Homo sapiens: one gene and its partners. The protein of the gene in region 1 interacts with the protein of each later gene in a pairwise test. Each region holds a gene or a part of one and is shown in the gene's direction. Other genes may lie near its edges. The genes, in order: SLC35B2, TMEM248, TMEM237, GOLM1, SHISAL1, CD69 and RNF170.

Evidence for each region.
Region 2: the proteins of SLC35B2 (region 1) and TMEM248 interact in binary tests that used the Homo sapiens proteins (3 or more experiments, as listed by UniProt).
Region 3: the proteins of SLC35B2 (region 1) and TMEM237 interact in binary tests that used the Homo sapiens proteins (3 or more experiments, as listed by UniProt).
Region 4: the proteins of SLC35B2 (region 1) and GOLM1 interact in binary tests that used the Homo sapiens proteins (3 or more experiments, as listed by UniProt).
Region 5: the proteins of SLC35B2 (region 1) and SHISAL1 interact in binary tests that used the Homo sapiens proteins (3 or more experiments, as listed by UniProt).
Region 6: the proteins of SLC35B2 (region 1) and CD69 interact in binary tests that used the Homo sapiens proteins (3 or more experiments, as listed by UniProt).
Region 7: the proteins of SLC35B2 (region 1) and RNF170 interact in binary tests that used the Homo sapiens proteins (3 or more experiments, as listed by UniProt).

Annotation. Positions count from the first base shown.
Region 1 is NC_000006.12:44,254,530-44,259,189, reverse strand, and holds the start of SLC35B2 (adenosine 3'-phospho 5'-phosphosulfate transporter 1), read left to right. Parts: upstream 1-1,661; 5' UTR 1,662-1,779; coding exon 1,780-1,790; intron 1,791-1,901; exon of another isoform or gene 1,902-2,008; intron 2,009-2,311; coding exon 2,312-2,505; intron 2,506-2,693; coding exon 2,694-2,848; exon of another isoform or gene 2,849-2,852; intron 2,853-3,545; coding exon 3,546-4,484; 3' UTR 4,485-4,660. UniProt on the Homo sapiens protein: Probably functions as a 3'-phosphoadenylyl sulfate:adenosine 3',5'-bisphosphate antiporter at the Golgi membranes.
Region 2 is NC_000007.14:66,941,467-66,945,477, forward strand, and holds part of TMEM248 (transmembrane protein 248), read left to right. Parts: intron 1-381; coding exon of another isoform or gene 382-399; coding exon 400-558; intron 559-3,509; coding exon 3,510-3,795; intron 3,796-4,011.
Region 3 is NC_000002.12:201,636,680-201,640,690, reverse strand, and holds part of TMEM237 (transmembrane protein 237), read left to right. Parts: intron 1-425; coding exon 426-430; intron 431-1,645; coding exon 1,646-1,702; intron 1,703-3,805; coding exon 3,806-3,943; intron 3,944-4,011. UniProt on the Homo sapiens protein: Component of the transition zone in primary cilia. Required for ciliogenesis.
Region 4 is NC_000009.12:86,089,438-86,093,448, reverse strand, and holds part of GOLM1 (Golgi membrane protein 1), read left to right. Parts: intron 1-4,011.
Region 5 is NC_000022.11:44,295,522-44,299,532, reverse strand, and holds part of SHISAL1 (protein shisa-like-1 precursor), read left to right. Parts: intron 1-2,647; coding exon 2,648-2,861; intron 2,862-4,011.
Region 6 is NC_000012.12:9,754,533-9,758,001, reverse strand, and holds part of CD69 (early activation antigen CD69), read left to right. Parts: intron 1-1,582; coding exon 1,583-1,705; intron 1,706-2,740; coding exon 2,741-2,940; intron 2,941-3,311; coding exon 3,312-3,415; intron 3,416-3,469. UniProt on the Homo sapiens protein: Transmembrane protein expressed mainly on T-cells resident in mucosa that plays an essential role in immune cell homeostasis.
Region 7 is NC_000008.11:42,868,901-42,872,911, reverse strand, and holds part of RNF170 (E3 ubiquitin-protein ligase RNF170), read left to right. Parts: intron 1-2,799; coding exon 2,800-2,908; intron 2,909-4,011. UniProt on the Homo sapiens protein: E3 ubiquitin-protein ligase that plays an essential role in stimulus-induced inositol 1,4,5-trisphosphate receptor type 1 (ITPR1) ubiquitination and degradation via the endoplasmic reticulum-associated degradation (ERAD) pathway.

The DNA of each region.
Region 1 (4,660 bases):
TCCACCTCTCCATCTGGAAGCCGGAGCCATAACTGCTGCAGTTTGGGCCCAGGCTATGTGCTCTTCTGGTGCCCTAGGGACTGCTGTGGCCAGAGCCTGGGGCCAGCCAGTACAGTCCTGAGCCGAGGAGGAGGGACTGCAAGTGGAAGAGAGCCAGTCTGGAAGGAAGAGCTTTCCAGGTGGACAGGGCTTCTTGGAAGACCCCCAAAGCCCCAGGTATCCTGGGTGAAGCCTGTTTGCCTCTCTTGAAAATGGCAGGTGCTCTTGTTTTACCCATGTTGGGTCAGCCTGAAACTGCCAACCAGTAGGAAGCATGGACTCTCCTGAGTGAGAAGAGACTGAAATAGGAGCAAGCAGAACCCTGAGAGGTGTCCCATCTTATTGCTGTTGAGGACCCTGAAACACCGTTGTTTAAAGACTTCACACAGAAGGCTCTGAACTGAGCCACTGGGGAAGGGAAGTTTCAGTAACATGACACTAAAATGGCAGAGACGTTAAAAAAAGTTTTTCCCTTCTAGAGCTGTTTTGCGCGCATGCATGTCTGTGTGCATTGGGGCTTTTTAGACAGGCCTGCCCTGTGACTTTGTGGTAGAGGCAGAGAGAAGGAAATTGTCCCCTGAGCACGGTAGGGCCTTGCTGGGTGGGGTCAGAGGCCAGTAGTTCCAGGCCTTTCTCTGTGTCCAGCACAGACCCTTGTCCTTGCTGTGGAAATGATGAGGGATGGAGGGACAAGAGGAAGAATGAGAGGACACACGCCCTGGAGCCCTCACCACTGCCCTGGGGGTTGCCATCTGGAGGAGCCTGGGGATAAGGGTAACCCAGGGAGGCTGGGCACGAGGGAGCTGACTCCACGTTTTTCCCCCCGTTCCTCACCTTCGAGGGCCCTGCTAGGTCACCCCTATGCTGGCATGAAGAGCATGGGGCAATAAACCAGCACAGTCTCTGACCACTTGGAGCGTCTCATCCAGTGAGAGAGACAGCCGTTAAAAGCATAAACATCCAAATAAAGATGCCTTTCCAAGTTGCAGTGGGTGCTATGAAGGGAAAAGAATAGTGGGAAGGAAAAGGATGGAGTCGGTAGAGGGTCATACTTTGGGTGGTCCGGGAACCCTCGCCTGAGGAGTATCATCTCAACTGGGATGTAAGGATGAGTAAAGGGATGGGGGCAGAGCATTAGGGGGAAAGCCTGTGAATTAGAGGAACTGAGAGCAAGCCAGTGGGGCTTCACAGCGGGCGAGTGAGTGGGCGAGGAACGCGGGCGAGGCCATGTAGAGCCTCGAAGATCATGGGAAGTGGGACAGAATTACTACCCAGCCAACAAAGCAAGGAGACACCTTCATCCTGTCAGAAAACGGGGAAACTAACACAGAGGAGCGGCTTGGGATGCAGAGCCTCAATGTCCTGTCCACAAGATGGCAATGGTCACCATGACCTCTGGGACGCTTATGAAGGGCGATGACGAAGCACAGGGGACACGCCGGGCGGGCGCCTCTTCAGGGCTGGGGCTCCCCGCGCCCAGGGGCAGCCCAGGTCCCCGGAACCCAAGCCGCGTCTGCCTCCGGGCCGCGCGGGGGCGCTGTGGTCCGGCGGCGGCCCGGGGCGCTGCGTGGTCGCGGCAGGGGCGGAGGGGGCCGCGGGGAGGGAGGCGGGAAGAGCGCGGCACTTCCGCTGGCCGCTGGCTCGCTGGCCGCTCCTGGAGGCGGCGGCGGGAGCGCAGGGGGCGCGCGGCCCGGGGACTCGCATTCCCCGGTTCCCCCTCCACCCCACGCGGCCTGGACCATGGACGCCAGGTGGGGGCTAGGGCAGCAGCGAGCTCACGTGACCGAGCCCCCGGGCCACGTGACTGCCGCGCCTCAGCACGGGGGCCGGGTGGGGTCCCGGCTGCTCGGCCGTCGGCCAGCATATCGCTGCCCGGAGCCAGCGGGGATGGGAGCTGCGGCTTGGTTTTGTGCTCCTTGGGGAGCTTCGGGCGGAGGGGCTGGGGACCCTGACGTCCCGGATCGTGGAGGGGAGTGTGGGGGAAGGGGCGCTTCCTCTGACCTGAGCAGCCGGCTAGCGTTGGAGGGAACAGAGGAGACCTGTGTGGCCAGAGGGGCGGATCCGCCCCCGGGGAGGGAGGAAGCTCTGCCTGGCCAGCGCCGGCGCACCCCCTCCCCGAGAGAGAGAGAGAGAGAGAGGCTCTTTGTCCGGGCCGGAGCTGCAGCGGAGGGGGCGGGGAGGAGACTCCGGGCACTACTCCAGTGTGGTCCCCTCTGGAGGGCGGAGGGGATGAGGAGCTGCGCCCTAATCCTTATGTCCGCTTTCCTTACAGATGGTGGGCAGTGGTGGTGCTGGCTGCGTTCCCCTCCCTAGGGGCAGGTGGGGAGACTCCCGAAGCCCCTCCGGAGTCATGGACCCAGCTATGGTTCTTCCGATTTGTGGTGAATGCTGCTGGCTATGCCAGCTTTATGGTACCTGGCTACCTCCTGGTGCAGTACTTCAGGCGGAAGAACTACCTGGAGACCGGTGTGTGAAGAAAGGGCGGGGAAGTGAGCTAGGTCGGGAAAGAGGGTATTTGGCCAGCAGTCCAAACGGGATATGACTTGGAGAGGGCGGGAGGTCGGTAGGCCGGACAGCAGGGCAGGCTGGCTGCTCTGGGGAAGATGAAGTGCTATGGAGAAGATTTGGGGCTTGACTTTGTGTGCTTTCTTCAGGTAGGGGCCTCTGCTTTCCCCTGGTGAAAGCTTGTGTGTTTGGCAATGAGCCCAAGGCCTCTGATGAGGTTCCCCTGGCGCCCCGAACAGAGGCGGCAGAGACCACCCCGATGTGGCAGGCCCTGAAGCTGCTCTTCTGTGCCACAGGGCTCCAGGTGGGTAGGTGGGCTCAGCCTCTCTTCCTGGGTTGGATGCCGGTGGGCAGGGATTCTGTGAAGGTTTCCATTTTACCAGTCCCAGAGCTTTGCTGGCTGGTGTGTTTCGTGTCCTCCTCCCAGGGGCACACTGCACCTCCATCTTTGAGGTGTTTGGGGGAAATGCCCTTTTGTTTCTTCCTTTTCTCCTCTCCAGCACTGGTACTGAAAGTTCATGCTGTTATTTCAAGATGTCTAGTGCAGAAGAGAGGACTCCTCTTGCCCTATTCTCTGTGATTTCTACTGTGCCGTTATTATACTTCCTTCCTGCACTGGTGTCTCACATACTGTAAACCCACTGATAAAATTGTGGGGGAGCCATTCAGCCTTCCCCCAGTACTGCATGTGAGAGAGTGCTAACATGCTGACCCCATGGCATTTTGCAGTGGGTACTAGTTCCACCTTGAATATCATGTTGAACTACAGATACCCAATTCTGAGAGTTCTTGCCTCCCTGAATAGGTTTTTCACACACAGTTGATTCCCTACAAGGTGAATCCAGACTTAGGAGGGGAGAAGAAACTTCTACAGAGGAACCAAAAAGTGTATATTTTCCTTTGAATCACTTAGGCATAATCCTGAAGAGAGAGAGGTCAATTTTTGTCTACCTTTTCATTATCTTGCTTATTGTCTCCTTTGTCTCTACCTTCCCCAACAGGTGTCTTATCTGACTTGGGGTGTGCTGCAGGAAAGAGTGATGACCCGCAGCTATGGGGCCACAGCCACATCACCGGGTGAGCGCTTTACGGACTCGCAGTTCCTGGTGCTAATGAACCGAGTGCTGGCACTGATTGTGGCTGGCCTCTCCTGTGTTCTCTGCAAGCAGCCCCGGCATGGGGCACCCATGTACCGGTACTCCTTTGCCAGCCTGTCCAATGTGCTTAGCAGCTGGTGCCAATACGAAGCTCTTAAGTTCGTCAGCTTCCCCACCCAGGTGCTGGCCAAGGCCTCTAAGGTGATCCCTGTCATGCTGATGGGAAAGCTTGTGTCTCGGCGCAGCTACGAACACTGGGAGTACCTGACAGCCACCCTCATCTCCATTGGGGTCAGCATGTTTCTGCTATCCAGCGGACCAGAGCCCCGCAGCTCCCCAGCCACCACACTCTCAGGCCTCATCTTACTGGCAGGTTATATTGCTTTTGACAGCTTCACCTCAAACTGGCAGGATGCCCTGTTTGCCTATAAGATGTCATCGGTGCAGATGATGTTTGGGGTCAATTTCTTCTCCTGCCTCTTCACAGTGGGCTCACTGCTAGAACAGGGGGCCCTACTGGAGGGAACCCGCTTCATGGGGCGACACAGTGAGTTTGCTGCCCATGCCCTGCTACTCTCCATCTGCTCCGCATGTGGCCAGCTCTTCATCTTTTACACCATTGGGCAGTTTGGGGCTGCCGTCTTCACCATCATCATGACCCTCCGCCAGGCCTTTGCCATCCTTCTTTCCTGCCTTCTCTATGGCCACACTGTCACTGTGGTGGGAGGGCTGGGGGTGGCTGTGGTCTTTGCTGCCCTCCTGCTCAGAGTCTACGCGCGGGGCCGTCTAAAGCAACGGGGAAAGAAGGCTGTGCCTGTTGAGTCTCCTGTGCAGAAGGTTTGAGGGTGGAAAGGGCCTGAGGGGTGAAGTGAAATAGGACCCTCCCACCATCCCCTTCTGCTGTAACCTCTGAGGGAGCTGGCTGAAAGGGCAAAATGCAGGTGTTTTCTCAGTATCACAGACCAGCTCTGCAGCAGGGGATTGGGGAGCCCAGGAGGCAGCCTTCCCTTTTGCCTTAA
Region 2 (4,011 bases), on another chromosome or scaffold:
ATAGCTTAAGCCTAGGAGTTCAAGGCTGCCGTGAGCTATGATCACGCCACTGCACTCTAGCCTGGGTGACAGAACGAGAGACCCTGTTTCTTAAAACACACACACACACACACACACACACACACACACACAATATTTAGAAGATTCAAACTGAAAGAGAATATGTATTCAGGATCCTGCCACTTTGAGGTAATGGCAGTTAACATTTAGTGTTTCTTCCTTCTAGTCTTTTGAATGAAGTTATGATCCGACATTTCTCAAATTCAGTAATGAGTGCCCATCCCACCCAGCTCACCCCCCAACACCTCAAAAGGAAACAAAAGAATCATAGCTTTCCTGTTGGCAAGTCAGTCCTTGAAGCTTCTGATTCATTTCTTTCAGGTGGAGCTGATCAGAATAATGTTCAGCATCAACCCCCTGGAGAACCTGAAGGTGTACATCAGCAGTCGGCCTCCCCTGGTGGTCTTCATGATCAGCGTAAGCGCCATGGCCATAGCTTTCCTGACCCTGGGCTACTTCTTCAAAATCAAGGAGATTAAATCCCCAGAAATGGCAGAGGTATAGTATGCTCTGACTTCTCCCGGGCTGGCTGGTCCTTGTGCAGTGGGGCAACACCCTGTGGCTTGCCATATAGCTTTCTTGGGTTTTGGCCTTTCTCTCCTAGTGAGAAAAATCAGTATTTATTCAGAATTTTCTGTTTTCCATCTCCCCAGGACTCACTTTGTTAGGAAATACCTAGATGGGTATTGTTCGATTTAAATATGCTACCAGTTTCAGTTAGACTATTTTAGCAGTGAAACATGCACTTTGGAGAGTACATTTGTAAAATGATCTGTGTCAAAAAGCTGGAGACCTCACCTCTGTAATATTCCATCTCAAATGGGTTCATTGCTGTTTTAGAAAACTGAACATTTGGTATTTTAAAACCACATATCATCATGGAGTTTTATCAGCTATACTAATGGTTTTTTTCATGAGATAAGAAGGAATCCTAAAGAAATTCAAAAACAGGACCTAATTTCCAAATATATTTGTTTTTTGTTTTTTGAGACGGAGTCTCGCTCCGTCACCTAGTCTGGAGTGCAGTGGCGTACTCTCAGCTCACTGCAACTTCCACCTCCCGGGCTCAAGCGATTCTCCTGCCTCAGCCTCCTGAGTAGCTGGGATTACAGGTGCCTGCCACCACGTCTGGCTAATTTTTGTCTTTTTAGTAGAGACGGGGTTTCGCCACGTTGGCCAGGCTGGTCTCGAACTCCTGACCTCAGGTGATCCACCCATCTCGGCCTCCCCAAGTGCTGGGATTACCGGTGTGAGCCACCGCATCCAGCCTAATTCCTGTCTTTTAGTAGATTCCTTGGGTGCCTTCTCTTATTCTATTTCCTTCTTCTTGGGTTTGTTGGTGGGTGGAGGTGGGGGTGGGAGTGGGGCTGGGAGTGCGTGGTTGCCGCATTGAGTGTGCCTTGCAATGGAGAGGAGAGTTGTGTTCCATGTAATTGAGATCGTAGCTTTCTCTCATGCTCTAGGGCATTCTAGATCTTAAGTGATCTTGGCAAAAGGAACCGCCTACACATGTGAGCTCTTTCTAGCACAGTTCAAGTAACGAGTTTTAGCTATTTCTACCATGTAACCCTTTCAAAGAGTTTATTACTAAGAGACATACTGGCTGGCTTAATTCTCTCTCTTTTCTGACCCTGCCTCAATCTTTAAAGGTTGTGAAAACAGGCTGCCCCCACATCAGGGCTGAAAATGAATATTCTACTCAAAACTAAAGCTGCACAGCCTCCTGCCATTTCTTTCCCGCAGAGCTTGAGTCCATGTTGAGCACTTGGCCAAGGCCAGTGGTTGCACTGAAGCCTGGATAATTAGCCCTTAATAATCCAAATTAGGCCTGGCATTGGCTTTAGCCAGCTGTTCAACGTGGACTCCAGCTCTGTAGGAACGCATTGTTGAGATGCTGCGGAACTTTGGTTATGATTAGTTTCGTGATTTTTGTTTTCAAATGAGGATCCTAGGTTGTAGGAAAGGCAGTGGTGTATGGGAAACATTTGGGGCTGTGAATCAGAACTTAATGCTGATTTTACCTTGAACTAGAATTGGAGAGTCCCTAATTTGCCCTGGGCCTCAGTTTCTTCATGTCTAGGATTATGAAGGACTGAGACTAGAATGTTCATTTTCAACCCTAATGTACTAGAATGGTCAGTTGAGTTTGTAGGTGTTAGGGAAAATGTAATTTGATAGATCCAGTTGCAGTCTTACTAAATGTCACATACAGTTAAACTGATGCTGTAAGGGTAGACTTACTGGGCTGGGTAGGGGTTGCTCAGATGACTTTTTTTTTTTTTTGAGGTGGAGTGTCACTCTGACACCCAGGCTGAGGCTGGACTTCAGTGGCGCGATCTTGGCTCACTTCAGCCTCTGCCCCCCTTCAAACGATTTTCGTGCCTCAGCCTTCCAAGTAGCTGGGATTACAGGCATGCGCCACCATGTCCAGCTAATTTTTGTATTTTTAGTAGAGACAAGGTTTCACCATGTTATCCATGCTGGTCTCGAACTCCTGGCCTCAAGTGATCCACCCTGCTTGGCCTCCCAAAGTGCTGGGATTACAGGCGTGAACTACCGTACCTGGCCTCAGATGGCTTTTTTTTTTTTTTTTTTTGAGACAGAGTCTCACTGTGTCGCCCAGGGTGGAGTGCAGTGGCACGATCTCCTCTCACTGCAACCTCCACCTCCCAGGTTCAAGCGATTCTCCTGCCTCAGCCTCCCAAGTAGGTGGGATTACAGGCACACACCACCACACCCGGCTAATTATTGTATTTTTAGTAGAGACGTGGTTTCACCATGTTGCTCAGGCTGGTCTCGAACTCCTGACCTCAAATGATCCACCCACCTTGGCCTCCCAAAGTGCTGGGATTACAGGTGCGAGCCACCGTACCTGGCCCCTTCCTTTTTGAAATCGTTGCTGCTCTAAGGTGTCATCAAAAGTCCATAAGAAGGGGGGCAGTGTCCCAAATGAGTATTAGTATTCACTGCTGTTTTGTGTTCTAGAGAAAGAGAGCAAGGTGTATGGAATTGACCTTTTGGGACATTATTTTAAGGTGACTTTATTTAAAGAAAAGAATTGTAGTTGCAAAATGAGTTTGGATTAATGCTTTTCTTCAAGCGTTCTTTTCAAGTTTGGTTCTGAGGCTAGATCATTTTCTCTAAGTGTAATATGCTGGATTTTTTAAAAAGATTTTCTTGAATAAATTGATTTGATTTCACAGTTTATTGAGTATCTTGTGCCAGTGAAGAGTTCATATTTTAGGTTGTGAATATAAAAGTGATTAGGAAAGCCACATCATGCTGCCTGTGAAGAGGGTGGTGGCCGAGTTGTCATGATCTTAAATGATCAGCTCTGAATTGTAGTTTGCTGATGTGCTGCGGTGCCACACTGGGGTCTTACCTGTATTCCCGCAGTGGGAGACAGGCGCTGCTTAACACCCATTTCTCTTTCTTTCACTTTCCCAAAGGATTGGAATACTTTTCTGCTACGGTTCAATGATTTGGACTTGTGTGTATCAGAGAATGAAACCCTCAAGCATCTCACAAACGACACCACAACTCCGGAAAGTACAATGACCAGCGGGCAGGCCCGAGCTTCCACCCAGTCCCCCCAGGCCCTGGAGGACTCGGGCCCGGTGAATATCTCAGTCTCAATCACCCTAACCCTGGACCCACTGAAACCCTTCGGAGGGTATTCCCGCAACGTCACCCATCTGTACTCAACCATCTTAGGGCATCAGATTGGACTTTCAGGTATGCAGTAGCCACTCTCCACTCAGGCTCCTTAGGCAACCACTGTTACAAAAAGAGGATGCACCGTGTATGTTTTTACTGACTATATTGTACTAGATTGTAGTCTTGCGCGTGTCTTTTTTTTGTTGAGTTTGAACTACATGAACCATTTCTGTTCCATCGTTACATGGTAAAGTACCTGGCTAGAAGTAGTTTCTCAAAAGCCTGTAGGAATGA
Region 3 (4,011 bases), on another chromosome or scaffold:
CTGAATATCAACATGGTAGGATAATGGATCCATTCCCTTTCTAACTGTTTTGGTGTCTTTTTTTTTTTAAATCAGAATTCTGGTCTTTTGTGAGAATAGTTTCCTCAGAGTTTAAGCTGATTTTAATCAGTCACAAGTAAGAGTTCTTAATCTGCTTAATCCATTTTATTAATAGACAGTAGGGAATATGTATATGTAGGTTCAGAAAATATTGACATTATTTTATTAGCAGTGTTATTAAACCACTTAATTATAAACAGTAAACTAGTTTGTAAACTAGCTATTATGTGAAAGCTAATTTTATTTTAAATTTGTAATGATTTAAGTCAATTTTCACTGTGAATATTAACAGGTTTCTAATTAATTGTTTCTTTTTTGTCTTTGTCCTGCTGATTAAATTTGTTTGGTGTTATATGACGTGTTAGTCAAGGTGAGTTAGTTTAATGTAAATATAATATTTGGTGTTCAAAAATTAGTTTGATTCCTTGGTTTGTTTCTCTTAAAACTGAGTCTGAATGGTGTAATTTGTAATTCTACAATATGTTTTTGTGAAATAATCTCCCATGACTACCATTTAAAAATTGTCATTGATACATAGCACTAGATGACCTTTCCATTATAAAAGCACTTCATCCCTGAATGGGGTCACCCAGCACATAACTGTTGGCTAATTTGTAGCTCTATAATGAGGACTGCACCTTCCTTTGTCTCATTTAGTCAGGGTAGACAAGGTTATACTATACTAAAACCCCCAAATCTCAGTGACTTAGTGTCACACAGGGTTATTTCTAATTAATACAAAGTCTGCTATGGCAAAAATGGGGGACCATTACCTTTCACTACCTTTTTACTATTGATATAGCAATCTAGGCTACTTTTTTTTTTCTTTTGTTTTGAGACAGAGTCTCACTCTGTTGCCCAGGCTGGAGTGCAGTGGTGTGATCTCGGCTCACTGCAATCTCTGCCTCCTGGGTTCAAGTCATTCTCCTGCCTCAGCCTCCTGAGTAGTTGGGATTACAGGCGTGTGCCACCATGCCCAGCTACTTTTTGTATTTTCAGTAGAGACAGGGTTTTGCCATGTTGGCCAGGCTGGTGTCGAACTCCTGAGCTCAAGTGATCTGCCTGTCTTGGCCTCCCAAAGTGTTGGGATTACAGGTGTGAGCCACTGCGCCTGGTCTGCAATCTAGGCTACTTCTGTGCTGTGGTCCCACCATCTTAACATGAGGCTTCCTCAGTCACCACAACAAGGGAAGAGAAAGCTGGAAGATTACTCACTGGCTCTTTCAACGTTTGGCTCTGAAATGACACAGATCACTTCTGCTCACAGCCTATAGGCCAGAACCAGTCATAGACTACACCTATGTGCAAGGAGGCTGGGAAATATAGGGGATCAGATGAATATTTGTTGAACCCACTTTCTGTGTCATGGTTTCTAACATTACTGACATGCAGTGTGCTACTGGTACCACACTGTGGGCTCTCTCTGATCTTCTCAATTTCTTGCCTTCTTCCCCTAATCTATAAACGTTTGCCAGGCCCAGGGAAGAGAGGGAGAATTCTTCCCTGTTTAAAAGTTCTCTTCTGACTGTTCTCTGCATTGAATTTTAGGCACCCTTTTCTGTTGACGTTTTTTCTTGCTTTATAGATGATATTCCACTTAGTCGTCCTAAGAAAAAGAAGCCCAGAACAAAAAACACACCAGGTAAGACGTTATTCTTTGTTGTGTGGGATCACAAGTTTTCCCAGGACCTCAGGCGTAGTAAACATCACAGATAAGGGAGAATTAAGGCCCCAGCAGCCCCGAATCTCCACTTCATTGAGGATAGAATTAAGGCCAGTTTGAAGCAGTGGAATTCCTGGTGGTGGTGAGGTACAGGGCAGTGGGCAGCCTGAGGAGTATCTGGACGCATTCATGGAATAGAAGGTGGTGCCATCTAAGCTCCTATTTCCATGATATTCCTGGACTCTTTAAGGTCTTTTATCCCCAGACAACATACATGGTTTTAAGCTATGATTGATTCCAGACCCTTGAACAAGATACTGAATTTAGAAACACAGAGTTCTTAAATCTCACTTCAATCAGAATATCTCTACATTACAGCATGAGTCTGAAGGCATGGCCACATCATCATTTAAATAGTAAAGCTTCAGTCATGAGCAGAACTCGTTTTTGTCTTAGTCATCCACTGATAATCCTGGAAGTTGCATCCGTAACTCTAAACTCAGCACATCTAGAATCCATCGTTGCCTTTAAGAATAAATAATTTTTTTACGTCTCATGATTTTCTGTTAATGGAACCTACCATTTTCCCAGCCCTCAGGCCTGAAACCTCAAGATTATCTTTACCTGATCCTTTAACTTCACTCTTTACTTGAGACCTCTCACACTCCTAAAAGGTTTCTGTGGTTGCTGCTCCTTTTTTAAAACAAACAAACAACAACAAAAACATAAAAGGAATCATACATACTATCTTTGTTTCTTAATACATAGAGTTCTATGTATTCTTAAACAGTGACTTCATTGTATTACATGATAAGAATGTACCATAATCACTGCTCTGTTATTTATTTAGGTTATTTCCAATTTTTCACTCCAACAATGTTGCAGTTCTGCATAAAATAGTGGGTGGTAGGGAAGAAGTACTTCTGTAGGATGGATTGCTAGCAGTGGAATTGCTAGGTGCAGGATGTGTGCATTATTAGTATGACTGACTCTGCTAAATTACCTTAAGGAAGCTTTAGTTATTATCTTGCTACCTGTAGAGTCTGAGAGTGTCTCATTCTCTAAATCCTTAACAACATTGGACAATAATCAATCTTTAAAATTTTTTTGTTAATTTAGTGGGGGAAAAGTAGCTTATTTTAGTTTACATTTCTCTATGTACTACTGAGGTTAAACATTTTCATTTGTTTATTGATACATTTCTATTTTTTTTTTTTTTTTTTGAGACGGAGTCTTGCTCTGTTGCCCAGGCTGGAGTGCAATGGTGTGATCTTGGCTCCCTGCAACCTCCACCTCCTGGGTTCAAGCGATTCTCCTGCCTCGGCCTCCTTGAGTAGCTGGGACTACAGGCGCATGCCACTACACCCGGCTAATTTTTGTATTTTTAGTAGAGAGGGAGTTTTGCCATGTTGGTCAGGCTGGTTTCGAACTCTTGACCTCATGTGATCCGCCTGCTTTGGCCTCCCAAAGTGCTGGGATTCCAGGCATGAGCCACTGCACCCAGTGCAATTTCTATTTCTTTTGTGAAGAAGACAAGCAAGGAAGGGAATGCAGTCAGGTATGTGTTAAAATTCTTTTAAAAGATTTCATGAGGGAAGAAGTTGAAGTGAATGACCAAATGAAGAGACTTATAAATTACCTGCTAACTCCAATTATCCATGATGACTTTATTATTCTTTAACTTATTAATGAAGGACTTTACTATATAGAGGCTGATGAAAATTCTTAAGGCAAGAGGCAAGTAAGAGAATTCTCTATGGTATCAGTTTTTATTATGTTTTCCACCTTTTTCAAAGTTCTAAATGTTCTGAAGCAATTTCTCCTCCTCCTGTCTTTTGCTCTTCTTTTTAGCCCCCTCGTTTTTTCTTCCTCAGCCTTTCTTATTCCTTCATTTATTTCTTTTCCTAACTTAAAGCCCAAAGTTACAGGTGAGGAGGAAGGAAAGATTTGGGGGATAATTAGTTCTGAAAGAGATGGGGTTATTCTATAGGAAACATTCTAGTTACCTTTTCCTCCATCTTTTTAAGATTCAGTGATCTTTGCTCAAGTAATCTCATTTTTTTCTACTCTGTTTTTCTATAGCAAGTGCTTCTTTGGAAGGCCTTGCTCAGACTGCTGGTCGAAGGCCCTCTGAGGGCAATGAGCCATCAACTAAAGAACTCAAAGAGCACCCAGAGGCTCCTGTTCAAAGAAGACAGAAAAAGACAAGGCTACCTCTTGGTATGTGAAGAAACCAAGGTTAAGTTGTGATAGCACTTGTGATTTTGATGACATGATAAAAACCTCTC
Region 4 (4,011 bases), on another chromosome or scaffold:
ACAGGTGTGTGCCACCACACCCAGATAATTTTGGGGTTTTTTTGTTGTTGTTTCTTTTTTTTTTTTTTTTTTTGAGGCAGAATCTCGCTCTGTCACTCAGGCTAGAGTGAGTGGCGCAATCTTGGCTCACAGCAACCTCTGCCTCCCAAGTTCAAGCGATTCTCCTGCCTCAGCCTCCCAAGTAGCTGGGATTACAGGCACACACCACCATGCCCAGCTAATTGTATTTTTAGTAGAGACAGGGTTTTGATATGTTGGCCAGGCTGGCCTCAAATTCCTGACCTCAGGTGATCGTCTGCCTTGGCCTCCCAAAGTGCTGGGATTATACACATGAGCCACTGTGTACACCCAGCCTATCAAGTGATTTTTAATGTGAAAACACACCACTTGTTTTAATTTTGGGAAAGCCTGGAGCCTCACAGAGTTTAGCTGATTTAAGTTAATCATTTTCAGTATGTTGGAAGCTTATAACCAAGTATGAGACAAACATATTCTGAAGCTTAAATGAAAATGAATATTAAATTAATACCTCTGTTTGATGCAGTATATCACTCACCCACTTCCATCTCATCCGCAATCCAAATAAATTCTAAGGTGGGAGAAGGGAGAGTGTCTGATGTATTTGACCACCATAAACTCTGCCTGTGAGTTCCTGCCACCAGCCTTCATCAGTCTTGATCATTTCTCGCCAGTGTGTGTCCCTTATCCTTCAGCAGCAAGGGTTTCTACAGTCCTGGAAGCCTGTGAGGAGGCACCTTGCAGGCCTGAAGCCTCATTGTGTTACTTCCTTTCCTTGTGTCACTATTTACCTGGGCAGCCCTGCTCCCATTGGGAGCCCAGGGCTCTCCTAAGAGTGCTGTCTAGACAGCTGCTCACCTTCCTGGCCAGCCAAGCACTGGGTGACAGTGAGGGGCTTCCAGGATTGTATGACTTCCAGGACTGTTTGAGGCTTGGCTTCCTCAAACCTTTTTCATAATATGATCCTGGTCTGGGATGTCCACGGCCTCAGTGGCAACTGTAGGTCAGCCCCAGGTAATGGCAGGTACTGCTATTTTAGTTGGTGGCAGAGTCAGGAGAAGGAAAGAGGAGGACTGGTTGCTATAAAGTAGAATGGTTATGGAAGGAAAACATGCATCACTGTTTCCTCATAAAATGGAAAAAAGATTGAATCTAGAAATGATTTGTTGTTCATCTTTCCATCCCTAATAGTTGTCAACATTTGTTGAGCAATTACTATGTGCCAAATGTAGCTCTAAGCGCTTCTCACTCAACTCACTGAATCCTCTTAAAAACCTTGTGAGCAGGACAGTGATGCACAGACAGGTCCTGTGTCCCCTGAGTGGTAGAGCAAGGGTCAGACATGGTTGTGGGGTTCCAGTCTTGGAGTTCCTGAGTGGTGGAGCCAGTGTCAGACATGGCTGTGAGGCTCCAGTCTGTGGGGTTCCTGAGTGGTGGAGCCAGGATTCAGATATGGCAATGGGATTCCAGTCTGTGCTCTTAATACCACCCTGAGCTGCCTGATGTGAATACAGCACCTGACTCATGGTAGCTGCTCAATAAATTTTTTATTGGCTGTTTAAAGAAAAGAGAATATTAAATGGTTATCTGTACACTTCCCTTGAAGTGAGAATGGAGTTTATTTTCTGCTTTCAAATTTATAATATACCCCACCCACTGACTTACCTCTACTAGAATAACAAAAGGCCTTGCAAGGGTCACATCTAAAAGTATTTTGTCAAGCCATGTGCGGCAGCATGTGCCTACTCGGAGACTGAGGTGTGAGGATTGCTTAGGTCCAGGAGTTCAAGGCTGCAGTGAGCCATGATTGTACCACTGCACTCCAGCCTGGGCGACAAGATTCCATCTCTTTAAGAAAAAGTATATTGTTAGAAAATTTAGTATATAACAAAGATAGTTGTTCAAAGCAGTAGGTAAAAATAGATTATTCAGTAGAGGGCCCTGGCAGAACTGGCTTGTCACTACAGGAAAAAAAAAAGCTGCATTCTTTGTATTTCCTTACTTCTGCATTCTTTGTATTTCCTTACTCCTTACATCAAAAAGGAGTTTTAAATGGATGAACAATTTAAATGTAAATATGAAACTGTACATTGGAAAAAAATGTGGGTAAGTTGTTTATAAACTTAGAATAGGAAATGCCCTTCTAAATATAACAACAATCGAGAAGTAATAAAGGATTGACAAGATTAGGTTATTTAAAACAACAACAGAGTGGCTGGTAAGATGGCCAAATAGCAACAGCTCTGGTCCGCAGCTCCCAGCGAGATCAACACAGAAGACAGGTGATTTCTGCATTTCCAACTGAGGTACCTGGCTCATCTCACTGGGACTGGTTAGACGGTGGATGCAGCCCACAGAGGGTGAGCAGAAGCAGGGTGGGGCATCGCCTCATCTAGGAAGTGCAAGGGGTTGGGGAACTCCTCCCCTAGCCAAGGGAAACTATGAGGGACTGTGCCATGAGGGACAGTGCACTCTGGCCCAGATACTACGCTTTTCCCATGCTCTTCGCAACCCACAGACCAGGAGATACCCTCAGGTGCCTACACCACCAGGGCCCTGGGTTTCAAGCACAAAACTGGGCGGCCATTTGGGCAGACACTGAGCTAGCTGCAGGAGTTTTTTTTTTTTTTTTTTTTTTTTTTTTGGTACCCCAGTGGCACTTGGAACGCCAGCGAGACAGAACTGTTCACTCCCCTGGAAAGGAGGCTGAAGCCAGGGAGCCAAGTGGTCTAACTCATTGGATTCCACCCCAATGGAGCCCAGCAAGCTAAGAAACACTGGCTTGAAATTCTTGCTGCCAGCACAGCAGTCTGAAGTTGCCCCGGGATGCTCGAGCTTGGTAGAGGGGAGGGGCATCCGCCATTGCTGAGGCTGGAGTAGGTGGTTTTCCTCTCACAGTGTAAAGAAAGCTGCCAGTTCGAACTGGGTAGAGCCCACTGCAGCTCGGCAAAGCCACTGTGGCCAGACTGCCTCTCTAGATTCCTCCTCTCTGAGCAGGGCATCTCTGAAAGAAAGGCAGCAGCCCCAGTCTTACAGATAAAACTCCCAGCTCCCTGGGACAGAGCACCTGGGGGAAGGGGTAGCTGTGGGCACAGCTTCAGCAGACTTAAATGTTCCTGCCTGCCAGCTCTGAAGAGAGCAGCAGATCTCCCAGCATAACACTCAAAGTCTGCTAGGGGACAGACTGCCTCTTCAAGTGGGTCCCTGACCCCTGTGCCTCCTGACTGGAAGACACCTCCTAGCAGGGGTTGACAGCTCACCTCATACAGGAGAGCTCCGGCTGGCATCTAGTGGGTGCCCCTCTGCGACAAAGCTTCCAGAGGAAGGAACAGGCAGCAATCTTTGCTTTTCTGATGCCTCCACTGGTGATACCCAGGCAGTGTCTGGAGTGGACCTCCAGCAAACTCCAGCAGACCTGCAGCAGAGGGGCCTGACAGTGAGAAGGGAAACTAACAGAAAGGAATAGCATCAACAAAAAGGACATCCACACAGAAACCCCATCTGAAGTTCACCAATATCAAAGACCAAAGGTAGATACATCCACAAAGATGAGGAAAAACCTGCACAAAAAGGCTGAAAATTCCAAAAACCAGAATGCCTCTTCTCCTCCAAAGGATCACACCTCCTCGCCAGCAAGGGAACAAAACTGGACAGAGAATGAGTTTGATGAACTGACAGAAGTAGGCTTCAGAAGGTGGGTAATAAACTCCTCCGAGCTAAAGGAGCATGTTCTAACCCAATGCAAGGAAGCTAAGAACCTTGAAAAAAGTTTAGAGGAATTGCTAACTAGAATAACCAGTTTAGAGAAGAACATAAATGACCTGATGGAGCTGAAAAACACAGCACGAGAACTTCGTGAAGCATATGCAAGTATCAATAGCCAAATCGGTCAAGCGGAAGAAAGGATATCAGAGGTCGAAGATCAACTTAATGAAATAAAGCGTGAAGACAAGATTAGAGAAAAAAAGAATGAAAAGGAATGAACAAAGCCTC
Region 5 (4,011 bases), on another chromosome or scaffold:
AGGGGTCTGGGGGCTACCCAGCTGCTCTCCCCACCCCAGATGCTTCCCATGCTTTGGCTCACCTGGTCCTCACCATCCCTGGAGGACGGACCCACTCAGCCCATTTTACAAATGAGGAAGGTGAGACACTCAGAAGGAAAGCGGCCTGCCCGAGGTCACCCCTTCAGGGGAGGGGCCAGCCAGTGAATCAGGGCCATCCAGATGCAGGAGTTACGTGGAGCTGTGCACACAGGGGTGCGTTCATGGTTGAGGCTTCGGGGCCCGAAATGCGGCTCTCTCCTTTGCGTCCCTGCTCTGCTGGGGCCTCCTAACAGAGTGTCCCTCGGCCTGGAGTCACGCCATGCCCCAGAGCAGAAGCCCACGGATGCTGCCCTTTACTGCCCTTTACAGCCTCTAGTGCTCGTAGGGCCCCTAGTGCACACACAGCCTCTTTCTCTAGGTGGGGGCTGCGCCTTGCTGTTTACAAAACGCTCCTGGGAGCCCCCAGCCCGCCTTGGAGACCATGAGTCTTTCATCAGTGAGGGGAGGAGGCCAGAGAGGTCACGATGGCCCAGGCAGCCTCATGCCAGGACTCCCACCCGGTTGTCCCGGCTCCCAGCCCAGGGCTCTGTTGGCTCCGGGAAGGCAGCCGGGGAGGCTTCATCGTTACCAAATGGCCAAAGCCCATGGCGCTGACCGCCCAGTGGTGGCCGGGTGAGCTGGGTGCTGGTAATGGGCAGGACCCTTCCACATCCCCCAACCTCGCCGGGCCTGCCCTCCCCGGCCCCCCATCTCTGCATATCAGGCTCCTCCCAGTCCCTTGAGGCCCAGCTCAAAGGCTGCCTCCCCATGCTGCCCTACCGCTCTGTCCCTTCCCTCCCTGAGTCCTGTGGTAGCCTCACGGGCTGGTCCCAGGGCCTAAGCTAGACTTTCTGCCCAGCAGCGTGAGTGTGCCTGGTTCCTCCCCAGCTGCCCACGCACTGAGCGTGAGCAGGGCCTCCTCACTGACCTGGGCAGTGACCCAGACAGTGACCGGAACTGGCTAGCTGCCTCTGCCCCTTGCCGCTAGGCCAGTGGGCCCCAAACCCAAGCCCATCAGCATCCCCTGGAGGGCTTGCCAGGACAGACGGCGGGGCCTACCCCGGAGCTTCTGATTCAGAAGCCCAGTGGCCTGAGAATCTGCATTTCTGACAAGCCCTCCGGGGATGCCCTCGAGGCCGATCAGGGGCCACACTTTGGGAACTGCTGCTCTGAGCCACAGTTTTCTCCCCTGTACGATGGGAATAAATGAGATGGGGTGAGACAGCTGTCTACTTGGGGCTCTCTAATAACCTCTACATCCCCAGAGGGGGTATTCTTCTTTCTTAAGGTTGAGGAAGAGAAGGGGGCCTGGAGAGCTCCCCTGGTTCCCCAAAAGCTGAGACCTTTCTCTCGCAGTGGTCATGCCCATCCCCACAGAAGAGGGTGCTGTCTGTGGGGGAAGGGGTGTGGAATTTCATGCCCCCCGCCGGAGGCAGCCTCAGCACCCCAGCACATGAAGGCCGCCTGCCCATCTTCCAGCCCAGCCCAGCCCAGCTGGGACTCCCCTGCAGCAGCCCCGGGTGGGTAGGTGGGGAGCTGTGTGGGCTGCAGTCTAATAACCTCTCAGCAGACACAGAGCTTTCAACGAGCTGGAGGAACTCCTGCAAAGCCACTGCCTTTGTGGTTAAAGGAATGTATTCAGCCAGCGAAGCCCCTTTTCAGTGATACAAATTAGATACAGCGATCTCTTTTATGAAGATACTAATTAAGCCTGAGAGAGCGGGCTTTAGGTTTTTTCCATTGTTATATTTGTTCAGACTTTCAGTCCTGTTTATCACCATCGGCACGACTCGTAAATACCATCCTGGGTTTGCAGTAGCATTGGTGGCTGAATAGGGGCCTCCGCCCCTGAGCAGAGTGGTGGGAGGGTTCCAGGCCAAGGCAGAGCTACCACCGTGAGGTGGGGGTGACTGAGGCAGGCCCTTGGGGACCTTGGGGCCTAGGGTACTAGTTTAGTAGAAACCAAGGAACGAAGGGTCTGCTGTTTTTGACCCAAGAGGTACCCAAGAGGTCCTTGCACCTATGCCAGCCACCACCCGGGCCAGCCTGGGCTGAGCAGCAGGTCCACCACTGCCCACCTGGGAACAAAGAGCTAGTGATACAAGACTGGAGAGGGCCCCAAACTTTGAATCCAGGCCTGAGTTCCATTCCTGTCCCTCCAACACTTATCAGCTCGGGCAAGTCACCTTAGGTCTCTGAGCCTCAGTTTCTCCATCTGTAAAGTGGGATCTCAGACTTGCTTGGCTGTGTGAGTTAAATGAGATGGGTCTGTGAAGCATACAGTAGGTGCTCAGTTAAGGCTGATTTCCTAATTGAGTGACTGCTGCATGTCAAGCATGTTCACCGAAGCAGGAGAGCCAGCCCTGCCCTCCAGGACCAGCCAGTCTGGGTGACACAGAGAATGTAACCAGGGCTGGGAGGCTCGGGGTAATGGGAACCCAGAGGTGAGGCTCACAGTGGACCACAAAGGCATCCAGGGGAGGGAAGAAGCAGGCAGGACCTGAGAAGAGGCCGGCCAGTCCCCCTGCCTCTTGGCACCCGTGGACTGGTGAGGGACCCCTCTGAGCCTGGTGACTCTGTCTTCCAGTCTTGTCTGCACATTTCCGGGTCTGTGAACCATACACAGACCACAAAGGCCGCTACCACTTTGGCTTCCACTGCCCCCGGCTCTCGGACAACAAGACCTTCATCCTCTGTTGTCACCATAACAACACGGTCTTCAAATACTGCTGCAACGAGACGGAGTTCCAGGCGGTGATGCAGGCGAACCTCACGGCCAGCTCCGAGGGTTACATGCACAAGTGAGTGCCACTCTGGGGGTGCAACCCCACTGCCTCGGGCCCCAGGCAAGGGGCCTGCCTCCCAAAATCGCGTCCCCTAGGGAGGCGGTTGGGTAACCGCTATAAGGTTGGGTGGGCCTGGAAGGAGTCTGGGAGAGTCTTTGGATGACCAGGGTTTTCGGCCCATTGTGCCTTCTAAGTTTCAGCTTTCTCATCTGAGAAATGGACACAGAGGCCAGGCGCGGTAGCTCACACCTGTAATCCTAGCACTTTGGGAGAATGAGGTGGGTGGATCACCTGAGGTCAGGAGTTCGAGACCAGCCTAGCCAACATGGTGAAACCCCATCTCTACTAAAAATACAAAAATTAGCAGGATGTGGTGGCAGGTGCCTGTAATCCCAGCTACTCAGGAGGCTGAGGCAGGAGAATCACTTGAACCCAGGAGGCAGAGGGTTGCAGTGAGCAGAGATGGCGCCATTGCACTCCAGCCTGGGTGACAAGAGTGAAACTCCGTCTCAAAAAAGAAAAGAAAAGAGGGAGGGAGGGAGGGAGGGACACAGAATACTCACTTTGCAGGGTTACCATAGAAGCTAAGTGAGGTTAAGGATGTGGAAAGCTTTCAGGCGTAGAAGGCGCCTGGGCCTGTAATCCACCGGGTTCCTTCATTCATTCTTCATTCATTTAACAAATACTGATTGACACCATTGACCCAGAGATTAATCCCATGCAGTTCTTTTCCTTAAGGTGATTAAAATACATTGGGATCAGGGCCTGATGGAGGGGACCACAGGTGTGGAGAAAGAGAGAGTTTGCTGTTAGAAAAGCAATGGGAACACGCTAAGTAGAGTCATGGAGTTTCAAAACAGCATGCGTTTCTCTATTATGAGTGAAGCTGGCCGTCTTTTCACATGCCTGAGAGACATTTGTATTTCTTTTACCGTGAGCTAGCTGTTTATGTCTTCTGTCATTTTTCTATTGAAGTTTTTGTTTTTTTCTTATTTACTTATGGGTGCTTTTTATATATGAAGGAAATATGATGAGTTGCAAACATCTTCCCATCTTCTCCTTGTTGAATGTTTCCATACAAATGTTTCCTCTGTGACTTTGACTTTATACTGCTTTTTCCTCATGCTTAATTTTTGTTATGTAATCACATTTTATCATTTTTTTT
Region 6 (3,469 bases), on another chromosome or scaffold:
GGTCTATAATACTGTTACATTTCCTCTATTATTTTAACATCTTTTGAAAAATTCAAATTTTTACTGTTCATTCACATATCATTTTAAATTGAGGTTTAGTTCACATACGATGAATGCACAGCTCGTAGGTATACAGTTTAACGACTTATGACAGTGGTATAACCACAAGACCAGCAACATTTGAATCTTTCCATCACCCTAGACAGTTTGCCCTGTGTCCCATTCCAGTTAAATTACCTTTCCTACACACACAAAGGCAACTACTGTTCTGATTTTTGACACCAGAGCTTAGACCAACTATTATTTAAAGTCATGTAAATGCAAATATGTAGTATACAATCTTCTGTGGCTGGATTTTTTTTCACTCAACATTTTTTTTGGAGATTCCTTCATTTTGTTGCATGTATCAGTTGTCTTATTTTGAATTGCTGAGCGGAATTCCCTTGTATGGATATACCATAATTTGTTCACTTATTTTCCTGTTGGTGGATATTTGGATTATTTCTGGAATTTGGCTCTTAAGAATAAAGCTGCTAGGAGCATTCTTGCACAAGGCATTTTGAGAACATATTTTCATTTTTCTTGAGGATATACATAGGAGTAGGTTTGTTGGGCCATAGAAAAGGCATATATTTAATTTTATAAGAAACAGTTTCCAAAGTGTTTTTCCAATTTACTCTCCCACCAATAATATCTGAAAATTCCAGTTGCTCCACATCTGCAGCAACTTCACCAAAAAATACTGTCACGTTTAAAATTTTGTTCAGTCATTTTAATGTCAGATATTTATATAGCAATTCAATATTTTACTTTATGATATTATCCATATTTATCCCATTCACATCATTTCTCTCAAACAGTAACTACAAGGAGATTAAGGAATTATGCTAGAATTTTTTATTTATTTATTTATTTATTTTTTTAGACAAGGTCTCACTCTGTCACTCAGGTTAGAGTGCAGTGGTGCAATCTCCGCTCACAGCAACCTCTGCCTCCCAGGCTAAAGCGATCCTCCCACTTCAGACTCCCAAGTAGCTGGGAACACAAGTGCGTGCCACCATGACCAGCTAATTTTTTGTATTTTTGGTGGAGACAGGGTTTCACCATGTTGCTCATGATGGTCTTGAACTCCTGAGCTCAGGTGATCAATCCACTCACCTCGGCCTCCCAAAATGCTGAGATTACAGGTGTGAGCCACCATGCCCTAGAATTTTTTTATGTGTCTTCTGGGGCATGTGCATATTTAATAAACGTTCTTATCATCATTAAAACAAACTGATTATATACTTAGAATTTTCATAGTTACTAAGTGTATAAATCATATGTGTCAGGTAAATATTTTGGGGAGACACTTTATAATCTCATCATTATGCTTGAATTGTTTCATTTCAAGCCAACAATAAACTATTCAAATTCACTCAAAATTGGGGGTAAATTAACTTAGAAATTTCTATAAAGAGACGGGGAAATTTCATATAATGAGATAGGAAATATTAAGTTTAAATGCCTCAAAAGAATGTTGCATATTCCTATAGTACTTCTATAGTCTGCCTGAACTCATCATCAACTTTCTCCCTTCCAGATGATGCCACCAGTCCCCATTTCTCAACACGTCATGAAGGGTCCTTCCAAGTTCCTGTCCTGTGTGCTGTAATGAATGTGGTCTTCATCACCATTTTAATCATAGCTCTCATTGCCTTATCAGGTGGGTCTACACTTCATCAATTCTTTCAAAGCCTCCTAGCTGTAAGCATTCATGCCCAGCTGAAATCAATATTAGTTTAGTCTAGTTAATCAGAAACTAGCTAATTCAGAATCATCCCATGTACCATATATGGCCAATTTCCTAATCAATACTAAACATAATTCCACAATCCTTGAATAATTAATGTAATACTTTTATAAGTATTAAAAGTATCTATGATTTATATATTACTGTAGAATAAAATTGCATTTGAAAAGATGTTTACATCTAGAATGAAGGGAGCTGATTTGAATTCTGAATAAATACCTATTTAGCTAGAAAAAAATGTGAACTTCACATTCATTGATTATGGAAAAAAATCGTATCTAAAGCCATAGATTAATCAGGAAGTGGCCAGTCTTTTGTGTTTTATCTCAAAGGACACAGAATGGTAGTTCTGAATAATTAAGATTATATTTAAAAGTTCCCAGAGAGTCAGTAGTGATTTGGTATTCAATACCTCCAGCTGTACCAAGATATATTTGTATCTTTTACAAATGGGAATGTTTACCATTGTTTTGAGATATTCTGAGTCATATGTCTTTCTGTATTTTGAATTGGTTCCCTAAAAGTTAGTTACTCTCTCCATCTTTCCAGCCTAGTGCTATAAATACTGCATCTTCAAATTCTTCCGCCTCTGCATTCAGATTCAAAACCTTATTTGAAATGTATAATGCACTTTATCCTTTCTAGTCCAAAGAAATATCTAGTCCAAATTTTCAGAATTGTTCTATATTTCTGTCATTTTCTGACATTATGACCAAAAGTACATCCCCTCATCCTCATATCTCCATCCAATGATGATTAGGCACAATGGAAGATCAGATATGGTCCTGAGAACTTTCTTTCTTCATACCCTTTTCAGAATTCTACTTTTTAGCTTTTATCCTTTACTTTATCACCACCTAGCACAACATAGCATCCTAAGGCTAGTTTTGCATGCTGTGGGTATTTGGTTTCTTTTGTTACTAAAACAAAGCATTTTTCTGTTCACAGTGGGCCAATACAATTGTCCAGGCCAATACACATTCTCAATGCCATCAGACAGCCATGTTTCTTCATGCTCTGAGGACTGGGTTGGCTACCAGAGGAAATGCTACTTTATTTCTACTGTGAAGAGGAGCTGGACTTCAGCCCAAAATGCTTGTTCTGAACATGGTGCTACTCTTGCTGTCATTGATTCTGAAAAGGACATGGTAAGAATAAAAAAAAGATAAAATACTACTATTTTAATTCATATGGCTAATCAGTGCTTTCCTTCCGTTTCTAAGTGGAGAAAACAAACAAACAAACAAACATTGTACCTATTTCAGATGTAGGAAAATGTCATCCCAGAGAACCATATGATCAGCCTGAGGTCAAAATGAGATTTAATTTAATCTTTTAAATTTGATTTGATTGCTTAGCTTCAAAGACCAGAAATCCAAATATGCTGATCCTATATAGAATGAGTACATGGTCAGATAAGCTGTCATGCCTCAAGTTGCAGCTTTTGAGAAACAGGATTTACTATCTACTTCCCCAGAAGGGTGTTTAATGTAACAAACTCCTTTGTGCTTTCTTTAAGAACTTTCTAAAACGATACGCAGGTAGAGAGGAACACTGGGTTGGACTGAAAAAGGAACCTGGTCACCCATGGAAGTGGTCAAATGGCAAAGAATTTAACAACTGGTAAGTCTCCAGAAGTCTCTTTATATTCCCCAGGGTGGCATCTCAGGAAAATCA
Region 7 (4,011 bases), on another chromosome or scaffold:
TGCCTAGCCCCAATAAGGGTTTTATAATTTATCCATTCACCAGATATTTTTTGAACATCTACCACATGCCATACATTTTCTAGGCATTGGGAATTCAATTGTGAATTAAACAGACAAAAATTCCTACCCTCATGGAACTTATATTTATTGATACAAGAATAACTTAAGCGGGGCCAGGTGCAGTGGCTCACGCCTGTAATCCCAGCACTTTGAGAGGCCAAGGCAAGCAGATCACGAGGTCAAGAGATCAAGACCATCCTGGCCAATATGGTAAAACCCCATCTCTACTAAAAATACAAAAATTGGCCGGGCATGGTGGCGCACACCTGTTGTCCCAGCTACTTGGGAGGCTGAGGCAGGAGAATCACTTGAACCCGGGAGGCGGAGGTTGTAGTGAGCTGAGATTGCGCCACTGCACTCCAGCCTGGTGACAGAGAGTGAGACTCCGTCTAAAAAAGACAGAATAGTTTAAGCCTATTAGTAGTACTGTGTTCCATAACAATTGTTACCCATAATTCATGTTGAGATAGTGTTTTATAATTTACAAAGTGATTTCCCAAACAACAATTGTATTTAATCTTTAGACATAAGTAAGGCAACTACTATTATTCTCATTAACATATGAGACTGCTAAGATTTGCTAACACTCACACTAGCAATTTCATGACTGGGTTCAGCTATGGAGGGGCCCCAGATTGAGGAGAATCTTCCAGGTCTCCTTGCAGCAGTGTCCACTCAACTGCCTCACCTCTTCCTGAGGCCCAGCACACAGCTCTCAGAGTGAAAATAAGGCTGGCGATGTAGTCTGTTCTGTGCTGTCCAGTATGGCAGCTACCAGCCACCTGTGGCTATTCAAGTGAGTTAAAATTAAACACAATCTGAAATTAAGTCTTTTAGTCACACTGGCCACATTTCAAGTACACAATGGCCACATGTGGCTCCTGGCTACTGTATTGGATAGCACTGATAAAGATTTCAATTATTGCAGAAAGTTCTGTTGGACAGCACCGTTAATTGTTTTTTGTCAATTTCTTTAAAAATTAATAAGGAGAAGGCTGGGTGCAGTGGCTCACGCCTGTAATCCCAGCACTTTGGGAGGCTGAGGCGGGCAGATCACCTGAGGTCAGGAGCTCAAGACCACCCTGGGCAACATGGCGAAACCCCATCTCTACTAAAAACACAACTTTAGCCAGGTGCTTGTAATCCCAGCTACTCCAGAGGCTGAAGCAGGAGAATCACTTGAACCCAGGAGGCAGAGGTTTCAGTGAGCTGAGATTGTGCCACTGCACTCCAGCCTGGGTGACAGAGCGAGACTCTGTCTCAAAAAAAAAAAAAAGTAGAGAAGGGAACATAAAGTGCTGTACACTTTTTGTAGCATTAGAACTGACATAAGTGACTATAACATCAAGGTGTAGCCTTGGATCACAGAATATTCTGGTGATTTAGGACTGTTTTGGAAGTATGAAATTTTAGTTATATTTATTATTATTTAAATTTATTAAATTTGTTTATGAATATTGAGTGGCAAAAATCTGATTCACTTAAGAACAGTTCCTATTTAGTAAACTTAATACTTTTTTCTGTAATTAGATATTTTTCATGCTAGCAACTTTATCTGTGCTGGGTTCCATTAAAACAAGTTTTGATAAATAAGTTTTACAATACAATAACATAAAATATATGTTATGTAGACACTTTTTTTTTTTGAGACAGGGTCTCTGTTGCCCAGGCAGGAGTATAGCGGTGTGATCTCGGCTCATTGCAGTCTTTACCTCTTGAGTTCAAGTGATTCTCCCACCTCACCCTCCCGAGTAGCTGGGACTACAGGTGTGCGCCACCATGCCCAGCTAATTTTTGTATTTTGTGGTAGAGACAGGGTTTCACCATGTTGACCAGGCTGGTCTCGAACTCCTGACCTCAAGTGATCCACCCACCTCAGCCACCCAAAGTGCTGGGGTTACAGGTGTGAGCCACCGTGCCCGGCCATGTAGACACTTTTCTAGGTCCTGAGGTACAATGAGTCCTACAGATAAATCCCTTGCCCTCATGATCCATCCTAGTGAGGTCTTTGATATCTAGATGTTTCTTGCATATGTGCAACACTTTTAAAATGAAAAAGATGTTGAAAATGAAAAAAGTGAAGACTTAGAAAACAGTTTGACATTTGATATTTTTTTCTTTTTGAGACAGGGTCTCGCTCTGTCACCTAGGCTGGAGTGCAGTGGTGCAGTCACGGCTCACTCCAGCTTCAACCTCCCAGGCTCAGGTGACCTCCCACCTCAGTCTCCCAAGTAGCTGGGACTACAGGCGCATGCCACCACCACTCCTGGCTAATTTTTCTATTTTTTGTAGAGATGGGGTTTTGCCATGTTGCCCAGGCTCGTCTGGAACTCCTAGGCTCAAGTGATCCACTTGCCTCGGCCTCCCAAAGTGCTGGGATTACAGGCGTGAGTCACTGCACCTGACCTCGACATTTATTATTGTTAGCTTATGCACTAGCTCAGCCTTGTGTTACTCAGAATAATTTACTTATTCCAGTAGAGTAAAAGATGAACTCTTGAGTTAATCTAAGTTTTTGTCTTTAAATTGTGTTTAGGAAGGAAAGTGGAAACCATGCAGCTTAAATAAAAACAATATAGCCTCATAACATTCTTAAAATTATAACCTTAAACTATTGCACGTTTACAGTTTGATGAGGGTTACACACTGCTGACTCTGTTCTCAAATATAATTTAACATGAGATACTGTTGAGGGCCACATGTGTTGTGTTCCAATGTGTGCACCTGTGTTCTTATTAGGATGCACCTGCTGCCACTCGACAGCAGTTCTACACTGACATGTACTGTCCCATCTGCCTGCACCAAGCCTCCTTCCCGGTGGAGACCAACTGTGGACATCTTTTTTGTGGTAAGCAAACAACGCTATACTTGGGAAAAGTGACTGTGTAGACCAAGACCTCTATGTGTACAAAGGCTGGATTCCCAATTTTCTCTTTGTCACATTTTGTATTTTGTGAGTAGGGTAGATTACCTCTGATATCCTGCTCTACTTGTCAACCAAGTATACTTAGCATCTAAATAATATACTTACTTATTTATTTTCTATTTAGTGTGTCCATGTAGCAGCTATGGGTTCAGAGGTTAAAGAAACTATTCAGCTTCCCCATAAACAGAAATGTGTTTGTTTGGACAGTAGTTCAAGTAGATCCATAGCATGAGGGATTCACTGAGTCCCTCTTTGTTCATCACTTTTTGGGACTTTCATTTATTATTCATCCTTGCCAGGGCAGGAAGGTTCTTCTCTCAAGAACCTGCCCAAGACCCTGCCTTAGTCCTCCTGCCTCTTTTGACTCTGAGTTTGTACTAAAAGTCTTAAAGGTCTTAGTCTCAGTCTGTTTGTCTCTGTCTCTGTCTCTCTCAACCTCTTGAGGTTTAATGAAGGAGAATGAGAATCCTAGAGCATACCTTGGGGTAAGAAGGGAATAATTTCACACTTACTTAGTATCAGGAAGGAGTGCTTTCCACCACTTATTTTTCCTGAATCTGCAGATTCAGGAAAATCTTCTATGGCTTCTTACGCCATAGAAGATTGAGGGGCAAAGTATCAGTTATTACATGCCTATGTATTGGACATTAATGTACTTCATCTAACCCCACCTATGAGGAAACAGGCTTTAGAGATGTGAAGAAATTTTACAAAGAGGCCAGGCGCTGTGGCTCACGCCTGTAATCTCAGCACTTTGGGAGGCTAAGGCAGGAGGATTGCTTGAGCCCAGGAGTTGGAGGCCAGCCTGGGCAACATAAGGAGACCCTGTCTCCACAAAAAATAAGAAATTAGCCAGGCGCAATAGCTCACATGTGCAATCCCAGCTACTGGGGAGGCTGAGGAAGGAGAATCGCTTGAGCCCAGGAGCTTGAGCCTGCAATGAACTGTGATCATGCTACTGCACTCCAGCATGGGCAGCAGAGCAAGATCCTGTCTCACAAATAATAATAATACATTTTACAAAG